Linked DNA regions of Homo sapiens. The protein of the gene in region 1 purifies or fractionates together with the protein of each later gene. This does not show direct contact. Each region holds a gene or a part of one and is shown in the gene's direction. Other genes may lie near its edges.

Region 1 (4,863 bases):
GAAACTTCCATTTCTCTAGAAAGAGGAGGCGTAGGACATGTTGGGCATGTCAGTCCTTAACATTGAGACAGGATCCACTGATAATCTTTTCATCCCATTATAGGAGAAAGTTGACAGAAAAGCTTCTAGCAATCCTGACCTTCATCTGAACAGGGCGACGGTAAGACCTTTGGGGTGTAGTCATCTGAGGGTCAAATAAATAAGACACCTATGTCTTAGCTTGTGAGGATAACTGAGTTTGCATAGGGACAAGATTGGGTACAGACTGCGAGAGGAAAGCCATGCTATTTCTATAAATAGCTAGCTCGGTTTGGCTTCAGTATCTGGTGTAGTCACTGGAGGGAAAGGAGAAGGGGCTGTGGAGGTGGAAGAATAGGTAGAGAATGGGGGGATCTTTTAGAAGACTTCTGAAATGTTAAGTAAATATAAAGGTCAAGTGAGCCAATATATACAACTTAACTATTTTAGAGTTTGGAAATTAGCTTCTTTGAAATGATTCCATCTTTGGGGTTGTGATCATCTTGGCTAGGAAGAAGGATGTAAGGTGTTACCAGCTCTTCAGGCTGTTTGTTGCAGCACAGGAAAATAACCAGGAAGGAAAACAGTTTATTTCTCTAGATTCCTAGCCCATGGTGCCATTCCCTCGGGATAGTTTGTCTGGATATACTTATAATTGGGATACACTTCTTGTACAGTTGCATAAATATGAAGAGAGTTATGGGGAGGCCCTGGAGGGCTTCTCTCGGGCTGCAGCCCTGGACCCTGCCTGGCCAGAGCCCCGGCAACGAGAGCAACAACTTCTGGAATTCCTGGATAGATTAACCAGCCTCCTTGAGAGTAAGGTAAAAATGTCTGAAGGGCTGAATTCCACTTTTTTTTTTTTTATTTTGTCGTGGGTCAATAAAATAAGAATAAATAGGTTTACGAGGTAGAGACCCTATAGAAGTGGGTGGGAGGGAAGGATTAGAATCTCAAGGAAGGCGACTAGTTTCCAGCTTCTTACCTATTTCCCCTTCTTTGCAGGGAAAGGTGAAGACCAAAAAGCTGCAGAGCATGCTGGGAAGCTTGCGCCCAGCCCATCTAGGCCCTTGCAGTGATGGGCACTATCAGTCAGCCTCTGGGCAGAAAGTGACCCTGGAGCTCAAGCCACTGAGTACGCTTCAGCCTGGGGTGAACAGCGGTGCCGTCATCCTGGGAAAGGTGGTATTTAGCCTCACCACAGAGGAGAAAGTCCCCTTGTGAGTTTCTCTTGGATTTCCCCCATTTTACCCTTTTGAACTAATTGCTCTCACTTCCTGTTCTTTCCCTGGCAGTTGAGGAGATTGTCAGTGGTCACAGATTTGTGACTTCTGATTTCCTTCTGTGACTATCCCGTGGGCAGATATTGTCTGGGTGATGTTTAACCATCTTTTGATCAGAGGCTTTTGTAGATTCTGTCACTGCCCATTTTGTATCCCTGAGTTTGGTGCTATGTGGATTCCTATATCCATAGTTGAAATTTGGCAGGACATATTTTTTTATAAGACAGAAACCTCAAAATTCTTCTGTCCCTTTGCATTTTCATGATCATAGAAGTTGAAGGAGGACAAATTTCTTAGTCCTGTTTGTACTTAGGTATACTTAGTTCTGAAAAGTGAGCTTTGAGTTATAATTTAAAGTCTGGTTGGGAGATTGTCTTAGATGTCATTCAACAAATATTTATTGAGTGTGTAATATATGTGTCATAGGGAGTGAGAAAAAAGAAATGTAAAGGACCCAGGTGCAGGTGCTTCTAGCAGCAGAGGAAATGAATTAAGAATATTTGTTTAGAAAATTTTTGGATCTTGAAAAGTTACGGTTTAGTGAATGCCACCACTCCTTGGTCCTTCACTCACTTCCTAATCCCTGGTTGACCGGTTTCCCCTTTCTCTTTTCTACTGAAATTGTTATTTTCCTAGGATCACCATTGTCTTTCTAGGCACTGGATCCAGCAACTTCTATTGCATGGTTCCAAAACATTCTGACTTATCTCTCACTATTGCTTTTCACATCCTTTCTGTTCATCTAAACAGAAATATTCACAATTCCCATTATATGCCCAAGCTTTCTCCATGGCATTTTCTAGGGGTTTGTATATTTGACGAGTTGAAGGGCAAAAAGATAGTTGAGAACAGTTTAGTTTACTAGAGCAAATCCTAGAGCTGAGAAGAATTAGAAAGGGATATAGACAAAGGTAGGTTTTGGAGGACCTTGAGAACAAATAGATATTTTGCCACTCCTTGGTTTCTCTTTTTCTGCCTAACTTTTAAATCTTAGGTTCCCAGGACTCTATTTTTGTTTTTTTCCTTTTTTCTCTTTATATCAGGATGGCCTATAGTTGCCAACTTTGATCACTTGTCAGTGGTTGCCTGACATACTGTGTAGAAGGATTCTGAGGCTTTGACTGGATTCATCAGGAGAGTGCTTTGCTTGATTGCAATATTTCCTGTGAATTCAGGCATGTCACGTGATGGCATGAGTGTGATTCTTCTCCATCCTGTCTATAGATCATCTTGCCCTGTGATGTCATATAAACCCAAGGCTTTGGCAGCCTCCTATATGCTTACAGATATATCTCCAGCCCAAGCTTCATTTCCAAGTGTTGGATTCCTATAACCATCTGCTTCTGGGTTCCAATAAGAAATCTCTAACTCAGTATTTCAGTATTACTCACCTAAATCTTTCTCTGTAAACCTGCTTCTCCTCCCTGGATTCCTTGTGAATGAATGGTATCACCTCTCAGTCACTTGATTAAGACTTTTGGAAGAATAGGCTTCTCCATTCTCCAAAAAGATTTGCCTTTTTTGTCCTATAGACTTGACTTCTCTGTGTTTACCACCTTAATTCACCCCCTTATCACTTCTCCAGATAGGTCTCCCTGATTCTCTGGTTTCCTCCAGTGTTCCACAGTGCTGCCAGAGAAATGTTTCTTAGATGGAAATCTGACCATTGCTACTTCTTATTTAAGATCCCTTACTGGTACTATATGTAGCTTTTGGGATAAAGTGTGAACTACTTAGGTTAGCATACAAAGTCCTTCATGATTTGCTCCCTGCTTCTCTTTCTATTATCTTTTGTCTCTTTCCCACCAGTGCCTTTTGTTTCAACCATGGAACAATTTTGTTGGTTTTAGAACAGCTGTTTTCATGCCTCTGTGTCTTACATACAGTTACTCTGCCTGGATAATCTCTAGCTTCTTCTTGACATAGCTAACATCCTCTTCTGCCCCCAACATTTTGTATAAAAATTTTCAAACATATAGCTAAGTTGAAAGAGTTTTACATTGAACATTTGTGTTCTCATCCACTTATATTCTACCATTAATATTTTATTTTACTTAGCTTATTACATATCAGTCTGTTTATCCTGCTATCAGAGTAAATTGCAGAGATCAATATACTTTACATACTTTAGCATGCAGTCATTAACTGAGTTCAGTATTTGTTTCAATTTTTTCTTTTTATGTAAAATTTACATACAATGAAATGTACAATTTTAAGCGTACATTTCATAGCTTTTAACAAATGGAAAATATCTGTATAACCCAAATAGAGATCATTACCACCATTCTGGGAAGTTCCCTGATGTTGCCTCCAAGTCAAAATCTCTGTTCCTATCCCCTCAGAGGTTTTTAACATTTTTACCGAGGATTAATTTTTCTCTTTTAACCCAGCTGGTTTTTTACCCTTTAAGATTCACTTTGAGCGTCACCTCTTCCAGGAAATCTTCCCTGCTTTCCAATTTTGATTTAGATATTTGTCCTCTGGGCTCCCACAGCCCAATCTGTGGCTTCATTGAATTCAGCACAAGGGAAAAGCTATTCTAGCACCCATCACACTGTGCTGTAAGTGATGACTTCATTGTCTGACTCCTGCTAGACTATAGGTCATTCATAGCTGGATTGGTATCTTATTGCTAAACACAATGCTTGGCACATATGTAATATTCAGTGAAAGTTTGTGGAGTTAAACTACACAGACAGTGATGGTTAGAGGCTTTGGTTAAGAGTATGATAGTTAAATTGATAGACCAGGAATAATGTTACAACTGTAACATGTTGGTCTAGTTCATCATTAATATTTGTTGAATGGCTTCAGTGTGCTTTGTCCTAAGTTCTTAGCAAAGTGACTGATGAGTTTCAGAAAAATGAAGACTCAGATATATAAAGTGGAAGATGGTACCTCTCATAGGTTTTCTGAGTAACTGAGAAAAAGCATTTGTTTATTTTGTTAGTATTTTATTTTTAAAGTTTAATTAAGTTAAATTTTATATTTTATTTTAATTACCTGTCACTGACTTTAAGTCCAGTATTTTGCTAGTATTTTTAAACCACTGTTTCTGCTCTTCTTTCCTACCCACATACCTTTTTGTTTTCCTCTCTCCTAATCTGTCTTTACTTGGTAGTACATTTGGCCTGGTAGATTCAGATGGACCTTGCTATGCAGTGATGGTGTACAATATAGTGCAGAGCTGGGGAGTGCTCATTGGAGACTCTGTAGCCATTCCTGAGCCCAACCTGCGGCTTCACCGAATTCAGCACAAAGGAAAGGTGAGCAATGGCTAGGATTCTCTTACAACTCGTAGGCTCTAAAAGTAGAACCAAGCTTATCTTTTTATAAAAGATATAGAAATAATTATATGTAAGTATGTGTGTAGGCTATGTGTATATATATTTGTGTGTATATGTTTTATTTATATATATATATGTATTTTTTTACTAAAAAGGTAAACTGGTAAGCAGAAAAATAAAAAAATGCAGTGAAATATTATCACTCAGGTATTACTGCCTTTTAACTGTTACTGTTAACAGTTTGGTGTATATACCTGAAGTCTTTTCTTTTCACA
Region 2 (4,863 bases), on another chromosome or scaffold:
GCTCAGGTGATCTGCCCTCCTTGGTTTCATGAAGTGCTAGGATTACAAGTGTGACCCACTGTGCCTGGCCAATATTTCATTTTAATAGAGTTTTTTACTATATTTCTTCATGTAGGTTTTTTTAGTACTTGCTCTAGGAGTTAGAATATCCATCCCTAACTTTTCATAGTGTACTTAGAGTTAATATTTTACCACTTTAAGGAGAATGTAGAAAACTTATCACCATATAGGTCCCTTTACTCTCACTGCTTTATGTTGTAATTGTCATATTTATTAATCTACATACATTGAAATCCCCATCAGACAATATTAAATTTTTTGCTTTCAACCATCATTTCTCTTTTAAAGATCTTAAGAGGAGAAGAAAATTTTATTCTTTTTTTCCAGATATTCCCAGATGACCTCTTAATTTTTTTTTTTTTTTTTTGAGCCGGAGTTGCGCTCTGTCACCCAGGCTAGAGTGCAGTGGTGTGATCTCGGCTCACTGCAACCTCTGCCTCCCGGGTTCAAGCGATTCTCCTGCCTCAGCCTTCTGAGTAGCTGGGACTACAGACACGTGCCACCAAGCCTGGCTAATTTTTGTATTTTTAGTAGAGATGGGGTTTCACCATATTGGCCAGGGTGGTCTCAAACTCCTGACCTCGTGATCTGCCCGCCTTGGCCCTGCAAAGTGCTGGGACTACAGGTGCCCGCTGCCATGCCTGACTAATTTTTTTGTGTGTATGTTTTAGTAGAGACGGGGTTTCATTGTATTGCCCAGGCTGGTCTCGAACTCCTGAGCTCAGGCAATTTAACCAACTTGGCCTCCAGAAGTGCTAGGATTACAGGTGTGAGCAACTGCAATGATATGTTTAGTGATTTGTCCAAAGTCACAGTTGTAAGTAGTAGCTAATCTAGAACCAAGATTTTCACACTTCTGTGTGTGTGTGTGTGTGAGAGAGAGAGAGAGAGAGAGAGACAGGGTCTTGCTGTGTCACCCAGGCTGGAGTGCAGTTGCACTATCTTGGCTCACTGCAACCTCCACTTCCTGGCTCAAGCGATCCTCCAGCCTCCACCTCCCAAGTAGCTAGGCTCACAGGCATGAGCCACCATGCTCAGTTCATTTTTGTATTTTTTTGTAGACATAGGGTTTTGTCATGTTGTCCAGGCTGGTGTTGAACTCCTGAGCTCAAAGACATCCGCCCGCCTTGGCCTTCTAAAGTGCTGGTATTCAGATATGAGCCACCTTGTCCAGACAACTCTTTATAATTCTTTTTCTCTTTTTTTGGAGACAAGGTCTTTTTGTCGCCCAGGCTGGAATGCGGTGGCGCGATCATGGCTCAATGCAGCCTCAACCTCCTGGGCTCAAGCAGTCCTCCCACTTCAGACTCCCACGTAGATGGGACTACAGGCACAGGCCACTATGCCCAGCTAATGTTTGTACTTATGTAGAGATGGAGTTTTGCCATTTGCCCAGGCTGGTCTTGAATTCCTGAGCTCAGACTATATGCCTGCCTCAGCCTCTCAAAATGCTGGGATTACAGGCACGAGCCACTGCACCCATCCTATTTTCACACTTTATTACTATTACTGTTGTATTTTTTATTTTTTTGAGACGGAGTGTCGCTTTATCACCCAGGCTGGAGTGCAGTGGTGCGATCTTGGCTCACTGCAACCTCTGCTTCCTGGGTTCAAGCGATTCTCCTGCCTCAGCCTCCCAAATAGCTGGGATTACAGGTGCCCACTACCACACCTGGCTAATTTTTGTATTTTTAGTAGAGATGGGGTTTCACCATGTTGGCTGGGCTCATCTCAAACTCCTGACCTCAGGTGATCCACCCGCCTTGGCCTCCCAAAGCATTGGGATTATAGGCGTGAGCCACCATGCCTGGCCTATTTTCACACTTTAAAGCCAATGGTTTCTTCATTTTCTTCTCTTCCAATTGACGGCATAAATGAGATTTTTTGGATTACTTTGATGATACTTTATTCAAAATTGTCTTTATGGCTGCTTATAGGAAAAGCGTCTTGGCAGGAAATGTTAAATCCCAGTTCATAGATTTCACCCACAGTATGTTGATAATGCAACTGTGCAATTGTATTTTGTCTCTCTCTTGTCTGTATGAGACTTTGGGATTGGTTCAGTTCTGTTCATCTTGCCAGTGTTCGTAGAATTGAAAATATTTAAACATTTTTATTTAGGTCTCCTTTTGTGTTTGACCCTAGTTCTGTGTTCTGTTGGCTGGGAGTAGAGTTTTTGCCTTAATTTGTTGATTGATTCATTCACTCATACAGTAACCTTCTGTAAGTCTACTATGTGTAAGGTACCATGCTAATTTAGTCAGAAGATTAGTATTTTTAGGCTCTTAAGAGTTAATATCTCCTTGGAGGAAATGTCAAATAATTGATTTGTTAAACAGCAGACTAATAATTATGTATCCAAAATGATGGTTAAAATGTATTGCTTTGGAAAGCTATATGGGTATTCTAAAATATTTTTGATACTTGCCTTTTTGAGTTATCTTCACAACTTTTGACACAGAGAATGGATATATTCACTAGATAAGGGATATGGTGGTGAAAGGCAGAGAAAAAAGAAACAAATATGAATCTTTGCCTTCAAAGAGTTTAAACTTTGGTAGGCAAATTAAAAGGCTAAATGACCATTAAAGAAGGCACACTCTCTCTCTCCAGATAGAGATTATATTACTCAGACAATTACTGATCCTTAAAAAACATAAAGTCTGGTGGTGAAGGTAACAAACAGAAATATTGGGTTAAAGATACTGAGTGTGACAGAAGATATGGAGCCATGAGATTTTAAAGGAAGAAGCGATTTCTTCTCACTGGTGTGATTGCTTTATGAAAAAAGCTTCTTTGAAATGAACTCCGAAGGAAGTTAGGATGTGATTATGTAGGAATGGGGGAAGATTAAGCCCATTCTATTAATTAATTAATTACTTAGTTTTTTGAGACGGAGTCTTGCTCTGTTGCCCAGGGTTGAGTACAGTGGCAACCTCCACCTCCCTGGTTCAAGAGATTCTTCTGCTTCAGCTTCCCAAGTAGCTGGGACTACAGATGTGCACCACCATGTCTCGCTAATTTTTGTATTTTTAGTGGAGACAGGGTTTCACCATGTTGGCCAGGCTGGTCTCAAACTCCTGACCTCAAGTGATCCACCTGCCTCGGTCACCCAAAGTGCTGGGATTATGGGCATGAGCGACCACGCCCAGCCTAATTTATTTATTTAATGGATAGTTATTGATTGCTGTTATCCCTAGGGAACACTGATCTACTGCAAGAGATGGGAATGAATCAGGTATTTATGGGGACTTCTGTGTAACTTACTTTGATTGGAGTGTAGAACATACACATATGTGTTCCTGTGTGTGTATGAGAGAGAGTTATTGCTGGTGATAAAGCTACAGAAATAGATTGGGGTTAATGCATAGAAAGCTTTGATTGCCACACAAATTAGGTGTATGCCAGGGGCCCCCCAGGTTTTCAGAGAATGATGAGTTGTGATCAGAATTGCACTTTAGAAAGTTACTTGCCAGGTGCGGTGCCTCACACCTGTAATCCCAGCACTTTGGGAGGCTGAAGTGAGTGGATCATCTGAGGTCAGGAGTTCAAGACTAGTGTGGCCAACGTGGCAAAACCCTGTCTCTACTAAAAATATAAAAATTAGCTGGGTGTGGTGGCACGCACCTGTAGTCCCAGCTACTTGGGAGCTGAGGCAGGAGAATCACTTGAACCTGGGAGGCGGAGGTTGCAGTGAGCCGATATCTCACCCTGTACTCCAGCTGGGGCGACATAGCAGATGTGCTGGCTAGAGTGGATTGGGAAGATAACAGAAACCATTGCAATAGCCCCGATAAGAGGTAATAGGGACTAGAGACAGTGAAGATGGACAAGAGGGAAATGGTGGGTCAAGGTATGAGCCTTGACCCATGATTGGGTGGGAGGAGGACGGGAAAGGACAGATTCAGAAATGTCTCAGATGTCAACTACAGTTGACCAGATGTGTAGTAGTGGTTTTGATTTTTTTAAATAATGGTTTTTAATAGAAGTGGGTTTTAAAAGAAATGGAAAAGCCACAAGAAGGAGCTGTTTATGCAGTGATGCAGTTTTGAACACGAAAAGTTTTTTTTTGTTTTATTTATTTATTTTTTTGAGGTCCTTGATGGGTGTATGTTCAGCTGGAGATGATATTCCTGGGAAAATTTGGGGTTGTCAGTAAGGAATTTGGTAGTTGAAGCTTGGAAAAAGAGGAGAAAAGAGCCATTGACAGTCTTGGGGAATGGCTATGGTAGATGATGAGAGGAACAAGAAAAGCAGAGGACCAGAAATCAGAGATAAGAACCCCTTTGGGGCAACGCTGGAGCTGAGGGAGAAAACTTTTAAGGAAAACATGGTCTCATACCTTTGAGAGTTAATTTTTTATTATTATTTTTATTTTCATTTATTTATTTTTTCTGAGGCGGAGTCTTGCTCTATCACCCAGGCTGGAGCACAGTGGGGCCATCTCGGCTCACTGCAACCTTCACCTCCTGGGTTCACGCCATTCTCCTGCCTCAGCCTCCCGAGTAGCTGGGATTACAGGTGCCTGCCACCACACCTGGCTAATTTTTTATATTTTTAGTAGAGACGGGGTTTCACCATGTTAGCCAGGCTGGTCTCGAACTCCTGACCTTGTGATCCACCCACCTCGGCCTCCCAAAGTGCTGGGAGTACAGGCGTGAGCCACCATGCCCGGCCTATTATTGTTTTTTATATATACAAATATAAATATAAATATATATAAATATATAAATATAAAAATATATATAAATATATTTATAAATATAAATATAAAAATATATAAAATATATTTATAAATATAAA
Region 3 (4,749 bases), on another chromosome or scaffold:
GCCTACGTCTACTTTTTTTTTTTTTGAGATGGAGTCTTGCTCTGTCGCCCAGTCTGGAGTGCAGTGGTGTGATCTTGGCTCACTGCAACCTCTGCCTCCTGGGTTCAAGAAGAATACTTCTGCCCCAGCCTCCCTAGTAGCTGGGACTACAGGTGCGGACCACCAAGCCCAGCTATTTTTTTTGTATTCTTAGTAGAGACGGGGTTCCACCATATTGGCCAGGCTGGTCTCAAACTCCTGACCTCGTGATCCGCCCACCTTGGCCTCCCAAAGTGCTGGGATTACAGGCCTAAGCCACTGTGCCTGGCCTGCCATCTACACTTTTAACAAGTAATTTCAGTTGCACAGGTGATACAATAATTTCTCCTTGTAGAAAAATTACAGACAAAGGCCAGGCACGGTGGCTCATGCCTGTCATCCCAGCACTTTGGGAGGCCAAAGCAGGAGGATGGCTTGAGGCCAGGAGTTTGAGACTCTCCTGGGCAACAGATGGAGACCCTGTCTATATATAAAAAAAGAAAAAAAATACAGATAAGGCTTAAGTCACCTTTGTTTGCCTTCTTCAGTCCCCATTTTCCCCTGGCTGCCACGGTTTTCAGTTCGTTATTTATCTTTATAGACTCTTTTCAGTCCATTCTCACTTAAGTTCAGTCAGCATTTACAATGTGTCTGTCACATGACAGACCAAGAATATAAAGATAAAAAAGATATAAACCTCACGCTCAGAGAGTCCACTGTCCAAGAAGGGAGAGAGACACCTTCTCAACTGGCAATCATATGTCACGATAGTCTGGTAACAGATGCTAAGGAAAGTCACAGAAAGGAGGTAACTTTTGGCACGACATTGAAGGATGCCTCTGATTCTGGGCAGAGATGAGATGAAATGAGATGAGATTGAAGGGCATTCTAGTAAAAGGAAAGAATTCTAAGACATAGACATTGGAAACAAGTTCTAGGTCAGACCTAGCTGGAATGTATGATTTTTGTGAGCATTCTTTGGTGATAAGAATTTTAGTAGTATCATAGTTGTCTATATTCAATGTGGCATATTTTCCTTAGTAAACCTTCTTATTGGTGAGGTTTCTGTTCCCAAAGCCAGAGAAAGCCCTTGGAGCAGCCTGAGCTATAGCAGGTCTTTTCTGTCCAGTATTATTAATAGTTGTCCTATACTATTGCAGCCTGATTTCCATATGCATTTCTATGCTTTTGTGTAGTCGTCTCAAAGTCAAATACATTGAGGCAGTGATGCAGGAAGGGCAGGGAAGGTGGCACAATGGTGTGCTGGTTGGGATGTCCCTTCCTCAGTGTCTCCTGATTCTTGGCCATGTGTGAAGTACCCTGTAACTTATTTAGTATTAATTAATTATGTTTGAGATGGAGTCTCCCTCTGTTGCCCAGGCTGGAGTGTGGTGGCATGATCACAGCTCACTGAAGCCTCATGAGCTCAGGCAGTCCTCTCAACTCAGCCTCCTAAGTAGCTGGGACTACAGGCACACACCATCATGCCTGGCTAATTTTTAAATTTTTTTTGTAGAGATGAAGTTTCACTATATTGCCCAGGCTGGTCTCGAACTCCTAGGCTCAATCAGTCTCCCACCTCGGCCTCCCAAAGTGCTGGGATTACAGGTGTGAGCCACTACGCCTGGCACCATGTAATTTATTGTTCAACCAGGGTACTTTTGAGAGTCTCTTTTTAAAATTATGCCAGGACAACAGGTGTAAATTTTGACTGTCCTGGGGAAACCTAGATGTGTGGTCCCCCTTGCCATGTGGTAATTTGGGCCCCCAAGTTTGCCAGATCTCTAGATTTTTCAAGAGAAAGCAGAAATATGGATTTCTATGTGAAATCTCCTGATTTTAAATGGCTTCTGTTTTTAAAAAAGACACTGCATGGGCCAGACTGGCAATGCCAGTTTACAAACTCAGCTTTAGTGTATGTAATTATAATCATGAACATTTAGGATTAACTTTTGTAGAAGATTCCCCCCAAATAGGGCTCTGCCTTTTTTTTTTTATCAGTCAGCTATTGCTGCATAACAAAATACCACAAAACTCCTGAGCTTAAAAAAAATAAGCATTTATTATTACTCACCAGTCTGTGAGGCGACCGGGTGGCTCTTTTGGTCTTGCTGAACTCACTAATGTATTTGTGGTTCAGCTGTGACTCAGGATGGAAGCTTTGCTGATCCTGGCTGGACTTTCTCAGGTGTTTGAATGCTGGTTGGCTATGGGTTGGTCTAGGATGGCCTCAGATGGAACAGCTGGGTTTCCCTCTCCTTGGTCTCTCATCCTCCAGCAAGCCCAGGCCTATTCTCATGGCGGTAGTAGGTAGACGGTGGACATGAACAAGAGTGGCCTCTTGAGGCCAAGGCATGAAACTGGTACTCTGGCATTTCCACCGCATTCTGTATTGGCCAAAGTAAGTCACAGGGCCAGCCCAGATGGAAAGGATGGGAAAAACACACTCCAGCTTTGATAGGAGGAACTGCAAAGCTACCTTGGAAAGGGGATGGGTGCAGGGAGGGGTAAAGAATTGGGAACATTATTGCAGTCAACCTACTACAATTACTTGTTCTTGTTTTTAAAAATTATGTACTTTAATAATGGACAGATAAAAGTATCTTTTTTTCCCCTTCAGATAAACGAATTAAGCTTTACATGAGAAGGCTACTTTGTCTTCCAAGCCCTCAAAAATGCATGCCTCCTATGCCAGGAGGCCTAGCTGTCATTCAGCAGGAGCTAGAAGCCCTAGGCTCTCAATATGCAAACATTGTGAATCTCAACAAACAAGTGTATGGACCATTTTATGCAAATATACTTCGAAAGCTGCTCTTCAATGAGGAAGCCATGGGGAAGGTAGATGCTTCACCTCCTACTAACTAAAGAAGAACTGACATTGGACGAGAGATTGGAAATCCAGTACTTTGGTATCCAGTCCACTTCCATTGATGGCATTAGAGATCCAGCACATTCTCAGTACTGTGGTGCAGTATTAGCCCAAATCTGTGTAATGGGTAATATTAGCATTACAGAAGACACACACATCACATAGACCCTCAGAAGACGTAAACATCACATAGACCCTATTTGTGCATCATTTTCAAGTTTAAAACAAATATTTGTAATGAACAGAAAACAATTTGTAATTAATTATATTACCTATATAATACTTGTAAATGTTTTCTTAACCATTTATATTTGGCTTATGACATTTAACCCCTAAGGAGTTGTTTTTCTCACTTGTTATTATCAAACCTAATGGTTTTTAATTTTGGTACAACTCCTTAAAGGGTTGAAGGTTGTGACAATAACTGAGGGAACTGATGTTCTGAATAAATGATGTGAAGTAAACACAATTGTATTTGAAATGTACAATTACATTTTATTAATGTGTTAATAGAAACTTTCAAAGTAAGTCCTCAAATTCCACAAATGTACCAAATCACACTTTATAATACCAATGGTCAGTATTTATTTAGAATTTTAATGTATTAAGTACATTTTCATGCTATATACAAACTTCAGATAAAACCTCCCTTGTTTGTTTAGTGAAAATAGAAGCAACTCCCTTCTCAAATTATTCTAGAAGTTTGTTTCTTCTTACAATTTAGTCTGCTCTCCAAGAAAAACAATTTTTGCACAAATCTCTTAGTGAATGTCCTTGCAGTTCTCAGGCCATTGATAAGGTTTATATAAGAGTTTAATATTTTTATGTGAGGCAGGGCTCATTTGGTTTACTTGTAAGAAGAAGAAAGGGAGTCAATGATAAAATGAGATCCCATTCTCCATGAAGTTCATATCTGAAAAAGAAACAGTTAAACTTTGGATTTCTTACCCATATAACTTAACTACCAGATGTCTTTTGTGCTGATGAAAGCTTTACCGTGTTATGACCAAGATGCCCTCCTAAGGATCATTATCATTTGCCTTTTTTTTTTTTTTTTTTTTTTTTTGAGACGCAGTCTCACTCTGTCGCCCAGGCTGGAGTGCAGTGGCGTGATCTCAGCTCACTGCAACCTCTGCCTCCTGGGTTCAAGCAATTCTCCTGCCTCAGCCTCCTGAGTAGCTGGGACTACAGGCGCCCGCCACCACGCCCAGCTAATTTTTGTATTTTTAGTAGAGACAGGGTTTCATCATGTTGGCCAGGCTTGTCTTGAACTCCTGACCTCGTGATCCACCCACCACGGACTCCTCAAGTGCTGGGATTACAGGCGTGAGCCACCATGCCCGGCCTCATTTGCCATTCTTTTTTTTTTTTTTTTTCTTTGAGATGGAGTCTCACTCTATTGCCCAGGCTGGAGTGCTGTGGCACAATCTCGGCTCACTGCAACCTCTGCCTCCCGGATTCAAGTGATTCTCCTGCCTCAGCCTTCCGAGTAGCTGGGATTACAGGCATGCACCACCATGCCCAGCTAATTTTTGTATTTTTACTAGAGACAGGGTTTCACCACATTGGTGAGGCTGGTCTCAAACTCCTGACCTCGTGATCCGCCCGCCTCAGCCTCCCAAAGTGCTGGGATTACAGGCGTGAACCACTGCGCCCGGCCTCATTTGCCATTCTTGAGCGTTAAATCAAACCTTGCAAAGTTGGGCACTAGTTGCCACTGAGACTTTAGAGAAATCTGCTTATCCTGGAATTACTCTTCTTGGAGTGCTGCGGGAAGCACTGCAGTTGGGAGGTACTTGGTCTAAAAAGAGCTTCATTTGCATAAAATACATTTTTGATTGTTTTGTTTGCTAAGGACTCAA
Region 4 (4,863 bases), on another chromosome or scaffold:
ATGTATTGATCTCATCCAGAACCTTCTGTGCACGGATTCTTCTGTGTTTAATTATGACTATTTTTTTGACATTTAAAAACTATCAAAATGACATTTAAGCATACATTATCTACGGGCATTCTCAGTTGATTTCAGATGGGAAAGTCAACCAAAATGCACCATTGTTACATTCTGATCTCTTCCCCAGTGGACATTCCTTTGTGAGACCTCATCAGCTGCTTTCTGTGCATCTCTTTATTTTCTTGCAGCCTCTCAAACCAGCTTTCACATTCCCAACCTCTCTGAAATGCACCAGTCAAGATCATTTTACAGGTCTTTCTGTCTTCATCTCCCGGCAGGCTAAGGCTTTATAAAGATTCTGTTTTAGATCTCATTTCCTGATCTCACACCAGTCTGGGCACAGGTCTCTTGTCAGCTTCTATCCATCATCCGGGCTCTTTCCTCTGTACCCATAATGAGATGTTTGTATTAGAAATTGGAAGCCCTGGAAGCCAGACTTGGTTCCTGTAATTCTCCATAATCACATCTGATAGATTCCTTTGAGCTTGTTCTGTGAGGCCTCATTCCTGCTGGGAGAGGACTTTAACTATTTTCCTGAATGTTCCCAATTCCTGGACATTCCTTTAAAACTTCCAACAGCCATTCCTTCCACCTCTAGTGTTCTCTCCTTCAACAGGCTCCTGACAAACCTGGTGAAATTCAACTCTCCACATCATGGCTGCCTTCATCCTGGCAGTTCAGTGTGGTTGGCCAAGCAGCACCATTTGGCACAGCAAATCACCCCTGCCTTCTTGAAGCATTTTCCTCACTTGGCCTCAAGATCACTTTACGCTCTTGTTTTCCTCCTCCGTCTCAGCTGCTCCCCCTCAGTCTTGCTTACTGGTTCTTCTTCCTCTTTCTGGAATCACACATCACACTTGTTTGACAATTATACAGAAAGTCATACCAGTGACATAGTAGCACAGTCATATGGTCAGACAGTTCTCACAGAGACAGACACAGAGTCACAAATCCACAAGTGACACAGACCGAAGTGCTCCTACTCTAGGGTTTAAAATACCATAGTGGTGTCCCAGAGCGGCTCTGAATTAATTTCCTGGGATAGGGCAGAAGGCGATGTATGGTTTGCCACAGTCACAGCTTCTGGGACATGTTTATTGAGGGAGCAGCAATGAATTTGAATCATTGTTTTATTTTTCTTCATATTCCAGGTTGATGTTGATGCAAATTCACTGAATTCTAACGATGTTTTTGTCCTGAAACTGCCACAAAATAGTGGCTACATCTGGGTAGGAAAAGGTGCTAGCCAGGAGGAGGAGAAAGGAGCAGAGTATGTAGCAAGTGTCCTAAAGTGCAAAACCTTAAGGATCCAAGAAGGCGAGGAGCCAGGTGTGTGCTCTGGGGCCAAGGGCACTAACTAGAATTTATACTGATACGATTGCTAATCATCTTTTTTTCACCAAAAAGTCACTTTCTAATGGCTTATAAGGGTTAACAATCTCTCCATTAGTTGCAGAGGTGGGTGGGTGATGGTACCTGATTTCTTTAAGTAATTTCTCAACACTGAAATCAAGGTGAGATAATATTTGTTCATATAAAGCGACAGCAAGCATATGTCCCTGAAAATGCACTGGATAACTGAGTGTGTTTTCCACAGAGGAGTTCTGGAATTCCCTTGGAGGGAAAAAAGACTACCAGACCTCACCACTACTGGAAACCCAGGCTGAAGACCATCCACCTCGGCTTTACGGCTGCTCTAACAAAACTGGAAGATTTGTTGTAAGTGTCCTTAAAAATAGTGCGATAGGGCTGGTTGCGGTGGCTCATGCCTGTAATCCCAGCACTTTGGGAGGCCGAGGCAGGCAGATCACCTGAGGTCAGGAGTTCGAGACCAGCCTGACCAACATGTAGAAACCGTCTCTACTAAAAATATAAAAATTAGCTGGATGTGGTGGTGCACACTTGTAATTCAAGCTACTCGGGAGGCTTGAGGCAGGAGAATCACTTGAACCCAGGAGGCGGAGGTTGCAGTGAGCCAAGGTCGCGCCACTCCACTCCACTCCAGCCTGGGCAACAAGAGCAAAACTCCGTTAAAAAAAAAAAAAAAAAAGGGCCGGGCGCGGTGGCTCATGCCTGTAATCCCAGCACTTTGGGAAGCTGAGACGGGTGTATCACGAGATCAAGGAGTTCCAGACCAGCCTGGCCAATATGGTGAAACCCCCTCTCTACTAAAAATACAAAAATTAGTCAGGCATGGTGGTGGGTGCCTGTAGTCCCAGCTACTTGGGAGGCTGAGACAGGAGAATCTCTTGAACCCAGGAGGCGGAGGTTGCAGTGAGCCAAGATCGTGCCACTGGCACCACTGTGTTCCAGCCTGGGCAACAGAGTGAGACTCCATCTCAAAAAAAACACAAAAAACAAAAAACAGTGAGATAGAACCTAACAACGCCGGGAAGGGCATTCCCATGTGGCTCTGACACCTTCAGACATGCTACTGTTCTGAATCTCAGTTTCAGCCTGCCTACAAACCACGGTGACAACCTTTGCTCTACACAGGGTATTTTTTTTAAACTTTTATTTTAAGTTCAGGGGTACATGTGCAGGTTCGTTACATAGGTAAACTTGTGTTGTGGGAGTTTGTTGTACAGATTATTTCATCACCCAGGTATTAAGCCTAGTATCCATTAGTTATTTTTCCTGATCGTCTCCCTCATCCCACCTTCCACCTTTCGATAGGCCCCCAGTGTGTGTTGTTCCTCTCTATGTGTCCGTGTGTTCTCATCATTTAGGTCCCACTTATAAGTGAGAACCTGCAGTATTTGGTTTTCTGTTCCTTACACAGGGTATTTTAAGGATTAATGATATAATTAATGTGAAAGCATTAATGTTGTGATGTCCTATATAGATTAAGCTGTTCTTAAAAGTACTAGCTACTTTACACCTGTGTGAGCATGCAGTTGCTGTATGAATATATATGTGGCTAGATGTGTTAATTTAATAATTTGGCATTTTCTGTGGGCAGCAATCATTATTTCTGATCAAACTATGTAAATTTTACATGTCAATTTCCCAGCGGAGTAAAAATTTTCACCATATTGACTGAATTAAAAATATTATGGAAATATTATGATCATTGGGCAAAAATCACAGAAAGCTATATATGCAGTTACAAATTAACTGATATCAACAGGAATGTTTTATTTCATAGTCATTTACAAGCTTTGACTTCCAGTCCAGTCAGAAGTAAAATTAGAAGTATGTGTATGCATGTCTTAGTTCAAGCTCCTATCACAAAAATACCATTGACTGTGTGGTTTAAACCACAAACATTTATTTTTCATGGTTCTGAAGGCTGAGAAGTCCAAGATTAAGGCAACAGCAGATCTGATGTCTGGTGAGGGACCACTGTCTAGCCTTCTTGTGTCCTCACATGGCCAAGAGAGCAAGCTCTAGTCGTGTTCTTTCCTTATAAAGACAGACACTAAGCAGGGGCACTGTACCCTCATGGCCTCATCTGAACCTAATTACCTCCCAAAGGCCCCACCTCCTACTACCATGCCATTGGAGGCTAGGGGTTTAGCATAGGAATTCTGGAGGCAAACAAACATCCAATACAAAAGAATACAGGAGTGATTTTACACTAGGCTCTGAAATATCATCCTGAACCACAGCCTCTCACCTAAATTTCAAAAAAAAAAGTTATACTTTCTCTGTTTGACGTGCTAAGTTTTTGGTAAATTTTTCATTTAAAGAATGAATTCTTCTTTTATATAAAATTTGATCCACAGATTTTGGTCAACATGCCCTAGTGAATAAATGCAAACTTCATTTTTCAACACAGGAAAGAAAATTTCCCACGTATTTTGTCAGATATTTTGATTACTAGAAATAAAATTATTTGAGATGAAGTGGTTCAAGTCTCCCTTGAAGGTTATAAATGATTTGACCTACAAGTTAAAGATTTAAACAGTGCATTGAGATAAATATTTGGTTGCTGTATACCACAATTTGCTCACCTACTTTACAGGAAATCCCTGAACTTGCTATATTTTATAGATTTGTCATCAGAAAAATCTGCTGTTTTATTGTTTTGACTTGATATTGCATCCAAGCAACTTATTTTTCAGCATATGCTCCTATAATTTCTTATTAGAATTATTTATTAACATTGCTATAAATTAGTTGTTTGTTTCCAAGAAAAATGTATTTTACAAAAATAAGTACCTAGGCTTTGTTCTCAGTGTGTTTAAAGAAAAAAGATCTGTTAGTCTTTGGCTTTTTGTTATGCGTATATATTAGCCTTTAAGAGAAATATACATTTCCTCTGCACCAACTCATTTTCTTGTTTGATATTTGGAACCCCTTCTGCTCCCTTTATAGTTTAAGGCAAAGGATTGTTGCTAACAAATCTTTGATCTTATAATTACTATCAGAAAGTAGGCTTTACACGTGTAGATTCCTACAAGGCAGCTACAAGGCAGCAGAGCTTATTAACTAAAAGCACAGCTTTTAGAACCAATCTGCCCATGTGCTGTCACTTATCTGGTGGTAGTACTTGCTGGCTGTGTGACTTTAGGCTGGTTACTGAGCCTGTCTGGGCTGTAGTTGTCTCAACTCTAAAATGGTGGTAATCTTAGTACCTACTTCATAGAGCTGTGAATATTAACTTAGCTGTTGCATATAAAACATTAGAACAGTGCTGACGTCAAGTTAAGTGCTAAAGTTTTTCTTTTTAAAATGATTATGTGATTGGTGTATGTCCTCTAAAAAGATAATATAAACAAATCCTTTGCCTTCTAAATGGTCAAGGTTTTTTGTTTTGTTTATTTTGTATAACAATCTCAAAATCTCATCAGATTAGAA
Region 5 (4,863 bases), on another chromosome or scaffold:
AATTCCTTTGCCCCATTCACCCCCTTCAGAGAGGCTGCCTTCTCCCATTGACAGATCTGTGTTCTCTCATCCTTTGGAAAGCTTTCCTTGTCTGATGAGGTTTGAATATATGCATAGAGCAATGATCCTCAACCAGGGGTAGCTTTGCCCTCCAGGTGCCATTGGATAATGGCTGAAGACAATCTTGGTTGTCAAAATGGGAAGAAATGCTGCTGGCTAAACATCCTACAATGCACAAGACAGCCCCCATAACAAAGAATTATCTGGCTTAAAATGACAATAGCGGTGAGGCTTGGATATGATAGTGCCAAGGTTGACTGCCCCATAGTCAGAATCAAGACTCTGGGGTGATGTTCTCAACTCAGCCACTTGTCACCTGTGTGCACTCAGCAAAAGTCTGGCAAATGCTCTGGTCCTGAATTTCTACATCCATAAATTGAGGGCAAAATGATAGTTGCCCTTCCTACTTCAAGATTTTTTTCTTAAGCACAAATGTTACACTGTGTATGCCACACTGCTAAACACCATCGCCTAATTCATCAGGGGCCCAGAAAGACAGAACTCCAGCCTGTCTCTCAACCAAGCCTCTGCCTTATGTGTCAAAGGGATTTTTGTAAAAGAATGCTTATTTCCCCACAAATTGCAATAAACTCTCATATTCTTTATAGGTAAGATTTCAGAGGTACTGGATGCTGGGACAGTCGATCCCCTGACAAAGCTGGTCCTTGTGAATGCCATTTATTTCAAGGGAAAGTGGAATGAGCAATTTGACAGAAAGTACACAAGGGGAATGCTCTTTAAAACCAACGAGGTAGGGAAAGATTTTTCAGATATACTGCTACTTTCTTAAAGTAATATTACAGGAAATATTCTCTTGGAAAAATGAATAATTTATTTGACATGATCTTGATTTTAATCTATTTCTGAATTATATTATATTATTTTATTTTCTTTGAGACAGGGTCTCTTTTTGTCACCCAGGCTGGAGTGCAGTGGTGTAATCTCAGCTCACTGCAGCCTCGACCTCCCAGGCTCAAATGATTCCCCAACCTTAGCTTCCCAAGTAGCTGTGACTACAGGTGCACACCACCAGGCCTGGCTAATTTTTGTATTTTTTGTAGAGATAAGGTTTTGTCATATTGCCCAGGTTGGTCTCAAACTCCTGGCCTCAAGTGATACACCTGCCTTATCCTCCCAAAGTTCTGGAATTACAGGCAGGAGCCACTGTGCCTGGCTTCTTTTCTGAATGAATTTAATGCCTCCTGTGTATCTTTAATGGCGGAAGGAAGAGAGAAACAAAAATAATTTTGGTATTGATAGTTTTGTTTTTCCATCTTTGATCAAATCTACCTTCCATCTCTGGTCATATGATTTGGATTGGAGGAGAATTTCTTCTAAGCCTTGGAATTATGTTTGCATGATGCTATTACTCTCTGTATTTAGTTAGATACCTTTTTGCAATATCAGTGGCAACTATGCCTATTTATTGCCTTAAAAGTCAAAGTTATACAATCCTGAGCACAAGAAAAAAAAGTTAGCAGATGTAAAGCCTAACTTTACCTTCCCTTTTGAATATTAAAATGGCTGGTATCAATAGTTGTTAGCTTGGGATTTGACATCCATCAAATATGATACTCTCATATTGCACAAAGATATGAAAGTTAAAAATATATTTGATGCAGGCTTTAAAAACAGCAGACCTTACACATCTCTTCAAGGTCCCCTTCCTAAGAAAGCCAAGGCCATAAAACCAATTCTACAACAAGGCAACTTTCCAGAGTTTGGACCGTACATCTTTTCTAACCAGATCCTTCAGCCCAAGGGCCTGAATATTTATCTTAACTTCGATAAAGAATTTTTAGTTGGAAGCTTCCATGAGAAAGCTTCTCTGTGAATGTTCTCAAAAAAGCAAACACAGCTTCTTCCAAGGATAATGTCAATTTTTGTGTCCTTCTCCATTTACCAAACTGTTTTTTTTTTCTCACCTGGTAATATTTGATCTGCTGGAACAATAGCTTGTTCTATTCAATACTAAGATGTACTAATGAAGATTTTATATCTATCAGCATAAATGTGCAGAAACAGTAATTATACACACCTAGAGTTTCTGTGAGTTAGATATATCCTATTTTTAGTAAATTATACCCACTTTTCAGTAATCGAACTTTAATTTTTCCGTTAGGAAAAAAAGACAGTGCAGATGATGTTTAAGGAAGCTAAGTTTAAAATGGGGTATGCGGATGAGGTACACACCCAGGTCCTGGAGCTGCCCTATGTGGAAGAGGAGCTGAGCATGGTCATTCTGCTTCCCGATGACAACACGGACCTCGCCGTGGTAAGCTCCAGGCAATGAGCCTGAGTATCTGTGGAGTCCAGCTGAGCTCATTTCTTTATGTTCATCTACCAATTGGCATTTGAGGAGTTTCCAGTTGGGGTTATTACAGGCAGTGCTGGGTGAACATCATTGTGTGTCTTTTGATGAACATGTTCATGCATTTCTGTTGAGTGTATACATATATGAGTGGACAAGTTTTGATGAAGCTAAGAAGAGAGAGTTCTAAATATATTATTATTTGGAATATTATTCTTTATTCTGCATGGAAGGTCTATTTGAAAGCCCAATGATTATTGCACAAAAGTCCTGGAAGAAGGGTAGGGATCAATCTTGGCAGTGATTCTCAAACACTAATGCACATATATGATTCTAGTGATCTTGTTAAAGTGCAGATTTTGATTCAATGGAGTGTGGCCTGAGATGTTGCATTTGTAACAAGATTCCAAGTGATACAGATGCTTGGAACCACACTATGAATAGCAAAAGTCTAAAGTACAGGTGGGAAATTTACCTTATACAAGAGGAGAGAAAAGTCTTACTGTGACAGAAAAGGAACAGAGTCCAGGAAGGGAAGTGGTAAACTTGCAAGGTAGGAGGTGCAAGACTAATAGTGCACTTGTAAACCAGCTCTGGGAGGTGGGAGAAGCCTTCATTTATAAAGTTTGCTGATTCTCATGACATGGTAAATACTCCCACCATGGCCGACTTTAGTCTACTGAGGGTTTAACAATTGATAGGGGTCAGCTCTGGCACACCAATGCACAGGATGTTGAGGGTGGGCTGCTTGATTTTCCTGGCTTCCCTTTGGAATCAGAAAGCTACTGCCCTAAGTCAGGGATGACATCTGTTGTGGCCACTTATGAGAAAATTAGGAGAGTCTAGAAATAGAGTCAAAATCAAAACAATGCTCGTTGGAGAGGAGTACCCACCTGGGCTCCAGTTGTTAAAGGGAAGGGGAGATGCTAGTGGAAGGCCTTTCTCCCTTTTTTCTTTCTACCTTATTGATAAATAGAAAGAGTGATGGATCTTGAAGAATTTGAAGCTAACTCCAGGACAGGCAGAGGACAAACAAGGATGCTGATGAAGTCTTCTTGCATTCCCCATTTCTCGTCTCATGCTCCCTTCTCATGCCTCCCTTCATCTTCAGATGAAACACAATTCCCTCTCTTTTACTCTGAGTTGCCCTCTGATTTAACCCTGAATAGTCCCCTCATTAGACTCAGAAGCAGAGTTCTGAGCCATGCTCTTTGTCTTTTGTCAAACAATCTCTCCCACTCACAGTAGTATGTATTGCATGAAGATTAATGTAATGAATTGGTTAGAATTTTCTAAACTGTTAAAAAATGTTTTTAACATTTGAAAGGAGTTAGGTACAAATTGTTTTTATTAAAAATTTCTGCCTGTCTCAGGTGTTTACTAGCTCTTTTACACTTGTCTCCATAAAACTGTGAAAAGATGAAAATTTGGGAGAAAATCTTGGTGTGTTTATAAAAGAAAATATCTGTAGATTTTCTTGGACCAGAACTCACCATCTAATTGCATGTCATTGGGGGAGGGGTAATAAATGGGTGTGTGGGTATCAGGCTATTGTCATCTAAATTTTAAGGTTTGAGTCTTTCTTATCCTAGGTGGAAAAAGCACTTACATATGAGAAATTCAAAGCCTGGACAAATTCAGAAAAGTTGACAAAAAGTAAGGTTCAAGTTTTCCTTCCCAGATTAAAGCTGGAGGAGAGTTATGACTTGGAGCCTTTCCTTCGAAGATTAGGAATGATCGATGCTTTTGACGAAGCCAAGGCAGACTTTTCTGGAATGTCAACTGAGAAGAATGTGCCTCTGTCCAAGGTTGCCCACAAGTGCTTCGTGGAGGTCAATGAGGAAGGCACAGAGGCTGCCGCAGCCACTGCTGTGGTCAGGAATTCCCGGTGCAGCAGAATGGAGCCAAGATTCTGTGCAGACCACCCTTTTCTTTTCTTCATCAGGCACCACAAAACCAACTGCATCTTGTTCTGTGGCAGGTTCTCTTCTCCGTAAAGAGGAGCAATTGCTGTACATACCCTCCTTTCCTTCTACCTATCTTGCCTTAATTAACATTCCCTGTGACCTAGTTGGTGCAGTGGCTTGAATGCCAAAATAAAGCGTGTGCACTGGATAGTGTGTGAAAGTCTTTGCTGAAAGTTCCAGAGCCATTGAGAATAACTGAGGCCGCAGATGCATGAAATTTGGGCCTGGGAAGGCTATGCTGGTTTTGGAGTGTTTGGGGTGCCTGCCATTGCCTCTGCCTTCACCTAAGTCTGTGCCCATTGTTTCAGGGGATCTTATGGAGCATCTCAGGGCTTCAGGAGCCAGCCCTCTTCCATCCGCCCGGCTCTGCCCACCACCACTGCCAGGCTGAACAGGGGACTAGTGCCCAGGTGACACTGCACACAAAGCCAAGGGCAAACCCTATAGAGTAAAGCTGCAGCCACCCTGTGTCTCATGTGCAGCTGAAATAGTGATCTGCTTCTGTCACTGTCACATAGACAGCCC
Region 6 (4,863 bases), on another chromosome or scaffold:
CCTGTGTAGGCCCACATGCCTGGCTGTTTATTTTGATTTTTCCTCAATCTCAGACTTTCAAAATCAGAGAATTAAGAGATGTAGTCATCTATTAATAAAAGAACTAAGAAATCTTAACTTTCCATTGAGACTTAATTGTAGATACCATTAACATTGTAATGTAATCATTATAATAATGTCTAACAGTTACTGAGTACTTACTGATAACCAGAAAACCTAGATTTTCTCCTTTAAACATCAAAGCTTTTAGGTACTATTACTATCCTTATTTTACAAACAAGGACATAGTGATGTTCTTACATTTCTGTAAGAAATGCCATTTAACCTACATTAGTGTACCCAGTGATTTGGCATGGCAAATGTTAATATGCAAGTAGTACACAGAGGAGACTATGACTTCAGAGTGGTTAAATGGTTTGTGTAAGATATCACAGCTGGTTACTAACAGAGCTGGCTTTCCCTCCATTCATTGAGCTAACTTTTCTTAGTCCTCTTTCTAACGAGAATCTTATAGTTTAAGGCTTTATAAATCAAGTATGTATTTAAGTTAATTATAGGGGTTCCATTATCCACATGTGCTATAATAATTCACAAACACTTAGGTCATCTCATCGCAGAAGAGATTCCTCCTGCATTGCACTGTGGCTTAGCAAAACAGCACAAGGCTAGAAAGCCAGTGAGACAGGCCTGGGTCCGGCTCGGCTACTTGTCCTGACTCAGGACAGGTGTGCAGCCTCTGTGCGTTTCTCTTTCTTCACCTCTCACTTGGGATAGTCTCAGCCCTCATGTTCTATGCTTTTATATAGTTTCTTCCTTAAAAGAGCATTCTTCTGTAACATGGAGTAAAAATGAGGAGAGCAAATTTAAAAAAAAAATCATTTTAAGCCTTTCTTGAGAATTAAGTAGTAAAACATGTGGTTACAAAAATGTTTAAAATTAATCCAAAACTTTTTCTTGAAATCAAGAAAACAATTGTATTTATAATAAAATAAAAAAGAATAAAGTGTTTAGGAACAAATTTAGCAGAAGTGTAAAAATTATTCTCTGAAAACTATTAAACATTGTTGAAAGAAATTTTAAAAGACCAAAATAAAGGAGAAAGACATCCTATATTCATGTATCGGAAGGCACAATAATGTTAGCATGGGCATAGCCTCCATTTTGATCTACAGATTCAACATGATCCCTTTCAGAATCCCTGTTGGTGTTTTTGCAGAAATCAACAAGCTGATCCTAAAGTTCATATGGAAATTCAAGGGACAGAGAATAGCTAAAATAACCTTAAAAAAGAACAAAGTTGGAGAACTCATACTTCCTAATTTTTAAACTTGCCACAGAGCTACAGTAACCAGGACTGTGTGGTACTGTCATAAGGATAGACATAGAGTAAGTACATCAATGAAATCGAATTGAAAGTCAGAAATTGTCTCCCACATTTTTCATTAATTAATTGATTTTTGAGGAAAATGCTATTGAATGGGAAAAATAACCTTTCTAACAAATAATACTGAGACAGCTGGATGTCAACATGCAAATGAATGAAGTTAGACCCTTTCATCACACCATATATAAAAATTTACTAAAAATTGATCAAAAATTCAAATGTAAGAAGAAAAACTATAAAACTCATAAAAATATATAGGAATAAATCTTCATGACCTTGGATTAACGAAGCCTTCTCGAATATGACACCAAAAGCATCTGCCACACAAGCGAATGTAGACAAATTGGACTTCATCAAAATTAAAAGATAAAAAAGCTTTTATGCTTCAGAGAGCACAACCAAGAAAGTGAAAAGTCAGCCTACAGAATGAGAGAAAATCTTTGCAAATTATATAGCTGATAAGGGACTTGGATCCAGAATGTATAAAGAATTCTTACAACTCTATAATAAAAAGATAAGTAATCCGATTTAAAAATGGACAAAGGATCTGAATAGACATGTCTCCAAAATTGATATACAAGTGGCCAGTAGGCACATGAAAAGGTAGTTGCTTCATATGATTAGTTATTGAGAAGGACACATCGGAACCACAATAAGATACCACTCGGTGCCAACTAGCATGACTACAGTTTAACAGACCATAACAAGTACTGGGGAGAATGGGAAGAAATCAGAGCCCTGTTACCCTGCTGGTGGGAATGTAAAGTGGTGCAGCCACATTGGAAAAGTCTACAGTTCCTCAATTGGTAAAACAGAGTTCTCATATGACCCAGCAATTCCACCCCTAGGTATATACCTAAAAGAAATTAAAGCATACGTTCACAAAAAGGCATGAACGCTCATGGTAGCATTATTCACAAAAGGCAAAGGATGGAGGCACCACAGATAGTCATCTCGTGGACGGTTAAATAAAATTTGGTATATACATATAATAGAATATTATTTGGCCATAAAAAAGGAACAATGTACTGATTCAAGCTACAGTATGGATGAACCTTGAAAATGTTATGCTAACTAAAAGAAACCAGAAACAAAGACCAGACATTAATATAATTCCATTTATAGGAAGTGTCCAGAATAGGCAAATCTAGAGATAAAAGGTAGATTATCTGTATGCCAGGGCTAGGGTACTAGGAGAAAACTGGTGAGTGACTGCTAAATGATACAGGGTTTCTTTTTGGGATGATGAAAGTGTTCTGAAATTGATTGTGATGATGGTTGTACATTTCTATGAATATAAGAAAAGCCATTGAAGCATATGCTTTAAATGAATGAATTGTATGCTATGTGAATTATATCTCAAAATAGCTGTTCTAAATAATAGTTAAAATTACATTTTGAGCGGGCGCGGTGGCTCATGCCTGTAATCCCAGTGCTTTCGGAGGCCAAGGCAGGTGGATCACGAGGTCAGGAGATCGAGACCATCCTGACTAACACGGTGAAACCCCGTCTCTACTAAAAAATACAAAAAATTAGCTGGGCGTGGTGACGGGCACCTGTAGTCCCAGCTTTTCGGGAGGCTGAGGCAGGAGAATGGCGTGAACCCGGGAGGCGGAGCTTGCAGTGAGCCGAGATCGCGCCACTGCACTCCAGCCTGGGTGACAGAGTGAGACTCCATCTCAAAAAAAAAAAAAAAAAAGAATTAGAAATTATAGTTAATTTTGGCTAGTTATCCAAGATAACTTTAGGAACCAGATAAGAAAAGATCCACCTTTCTAGCACGACATGAAAGTTCTGGTAATATAAGAACTTGGTAGTCATATAGCTCTCGATTTGAATGCTGTTTTAGAATAGTTAATTTATATAGCTTCCCTGAATCTCAGCTTCTTCATGTACAAAATGGGGGTAATATTAGCACATGGGTTGCTCGGAAAATTAAATGAGTTACCCCATCTAAAGAGCTCAGCACAGTGCTATCAGCGATAGCCCTCATTGGAGGTGCCATAACCATCATAAGGTTGTGGTAAGAGTTGGAAGAGAAAGGCCCTTCCTCATCTTTGCAAGTGCCGTTCCTCCTGCCTGGAGTACCACCCTGTCTCACAGCTTGATGAGTCCCTTCATGACCTCACTGGTAGACTCCATTCAAGCTCCATTTCTGGTAGGCATTTCTCACGTGCGTTGCGCCTGGCAGCCATGCTACAACCCCAAAGGCTTTCCCCCCTTGCAGACCTGGCATTTTACTAGGTTCAGCACTGGTTTATTGGCCCACCTGACCCTCTCTGTGATACCTGAGAGCAGGGGCTGCTGCTTCTCTCCCAGATCCCCAGTGCCTAGCTCAGTGCTTAGTGATTGGTGGGTGCGTAGTCAACACTGGGTAAAAGAATCAATAAATTGTATGAATAGGGTCAAATACTTCCATTGGACTCCCAAACATTACTTTACTGGTAAACAGGTTAATCTGAAATGTTTTATGTTGGAATCTTCATTTAATAGTTTGCCATCATTGGTTTCTTAGTATACTTTGAGAAAATAGTATAGTCCTGACATTGAAATAATGATAAACATCAAAAAACCTAAATTTAATTCTTACAAGTCAATAGAAAAATTTTTAAAATTACTAATTAGCCACTAATTACTTACTGGCTAATAAGTAGTTTTTCATTTCGAAAGGCACTTTTTTTTGAAGGACCTCTATGTGCTATATAAACCTCTGTGGAAAGTTGAAACTTTGTATTTCTTAACATACCATCTGAATTGACAAGGGGAATTGAAAATTTGGATTTCCACGGTAGTCCCATTGTATTTCTTAATGATAATGGTGTAGGTATAAATGTACGTATCAAGTTTGTGGAGTAAGTGAATCTGGTGTATGTTTGAACTTGCGCTAAGCCACGTTCTTGCCAAAATTTGGAAAACCTATTTAGAAATATTCCCCTTATCCCTGTGCCAGCTCTCCAGAAGCCAAACACTTTGATCATAATATTTGCCTCCCTGCTTCATCTGCAAAAGAACATAGTTAAAGTCATTGGTATGTGATAAATCATGATATTCACATATCTAAACTGTATGAATCCATTATTAACTAGCTAATATGAGTATTATTACCTTGAGAATTTGGTATTAAATGGTGTTTTCTCATAACCTTACCTAGATAACAAGGTAAAACTGTCTCAGAAGTGCCTTTTAACTTTGTGATCTTTGAAAAAGCAGATAGAGTTTTCATTAAAGACCAGAGAACATTAAAACAATTTCAGTGCTTTCATCAAGATATGGCCCCTTTCAACCAATCATTTCAAAATATTACACAAAATTTAGGAGCCCTTTCTGTAAATAACACTGAAATGAATTTGGAAAGTGGCATTGCCTTAAGTATAGTACAGAGAAACTTTTGCCCAGGGGCCATATCATATCATTTGGATGGCTGTGCAGGTTTCTAAATAAGAGCCATCACCACTTATTTTGTTAAGAGAAAGGCAGCC

Evidence for each region.
Region 2: the proteins of TTC5 (region 1) and SWAP70 fractionate together in Homo sapiens (co-fractionation; one large-scale study listed by BioGRID). This does not show direct contact.
Region 3: the proteins of TTC5 (region 1) and TCP11L2 purify together in Homo sapiens (affinity purification with mass spectrometry; one large-scale study listed by BioGRID and IntAct). This does not show direct contact.
Region 4: the proteins of TTC5 (region 1) and SCIN fractionate together in Homo sapiens (co-fractionation; one large-scale study listed by BioGRID). This does not show direct contact.
Region 5: the proteins of TTC5 (region 1) and SERPINB8 fractionate together in Homo sapiens (co-fractionation; one large-scale study listed by BioGRID). This does not show direct contact.
Region 6: the proteins of TTC5 (region 1) and GMDS fractionate together in Homo sapiens (co-fractionation; one large-scale study listed by BioGRID). This does not show direct contact.

What each region holds. Positions count from the first base shown.
Region 1 is NC_000014.9:20,291,687-20,296,549, reverse strand, and holds part of TTC5 (tetratricopeptide repeat protein 5), read left to right. Parts: intron 1-103; coding exon 104-160; intron 161-695; coding exon 696-842; intron 843-1,023; coding exon 1,024-1,238; intron 1,239-4,422; coding exon 4,423-4,567; intron 4,568-4,863. UniProt on the Homo sapiens protein: Cofactor involved in the regulation of various cellular mechanisms such as actin regulation, autophagy, chromatin regulation and DNA repair.
Region 2 is NC_000011.10:9,666,316-9,671,178, forward strand, and holds part of SWAP70 (switch-associated protein 70), read left to right. Parts: intron 1-4,863.
Region 3 is NC_000012.12:106,343,648-106,348,396, forward strand, and holds the end of TCP11L2 (T-complex protein 11-like protein 2), read left to right. Parts: intron 1-2,638; coding exon 2,639-2,883; 3' UTR 2,884-3,356; downstream 3,357-4,749. UniProt on the Homo sapiens protein: Promotes the migration of muscle-derived satellite cells (MDSCs) during differentiation throught interaction with FMNL2 and therefore may participate in microfilament assembly.
Region 4 is NC_000007.14:12,642,927-12,647,789, forward strand, and holds part of SCIN (scinderin), read left to right. Parts: intron 1-1,211; coding exon 1,212-1,389; intron 1,390-1,657; coding exon 1,658-1,779; intron 1,780-4,863. UniProt on the Homo sapiens protein: Ca(2+)-dependent actin filament-severing protein that has a regulatory function in exocytosis by affecting the organization of the microfilament network underneath the plasma membrane.
Region 5 is NC_000018.10:63,982,911-63,987,773, forward strand, and holds part of SERPINB8 (serpin B8), read left to right. Parts: intron 1-668; coding exon 669-811; intron 812-2,182; coding exon 2,183-2,335; intron 2,336-3,347; coding exon of another isoform or gene 3,348-3,356; exon of another isoform or gene 3,357-3,740; intron 3,741-3,963; coding exon 3,964-4,368; 3' UTR 4,369-4,863. UniProt on the Homo sapiens protein: Has an important role in epithelial desmosome-mediated cell-cell adhesion.
Region 6 is NC_000006.12:1,930,758-1,935,620, reverse strand, and holds part of GMDS (GDP-mannose 4,6 dehydratase), read left to right. Parts: intron 1-4,863. UniProt on the Homo sapiens protein: Catalyzes the conversion of GDP-D-mannose to GDP-4-dehydro-6-deoxy-D-mannose.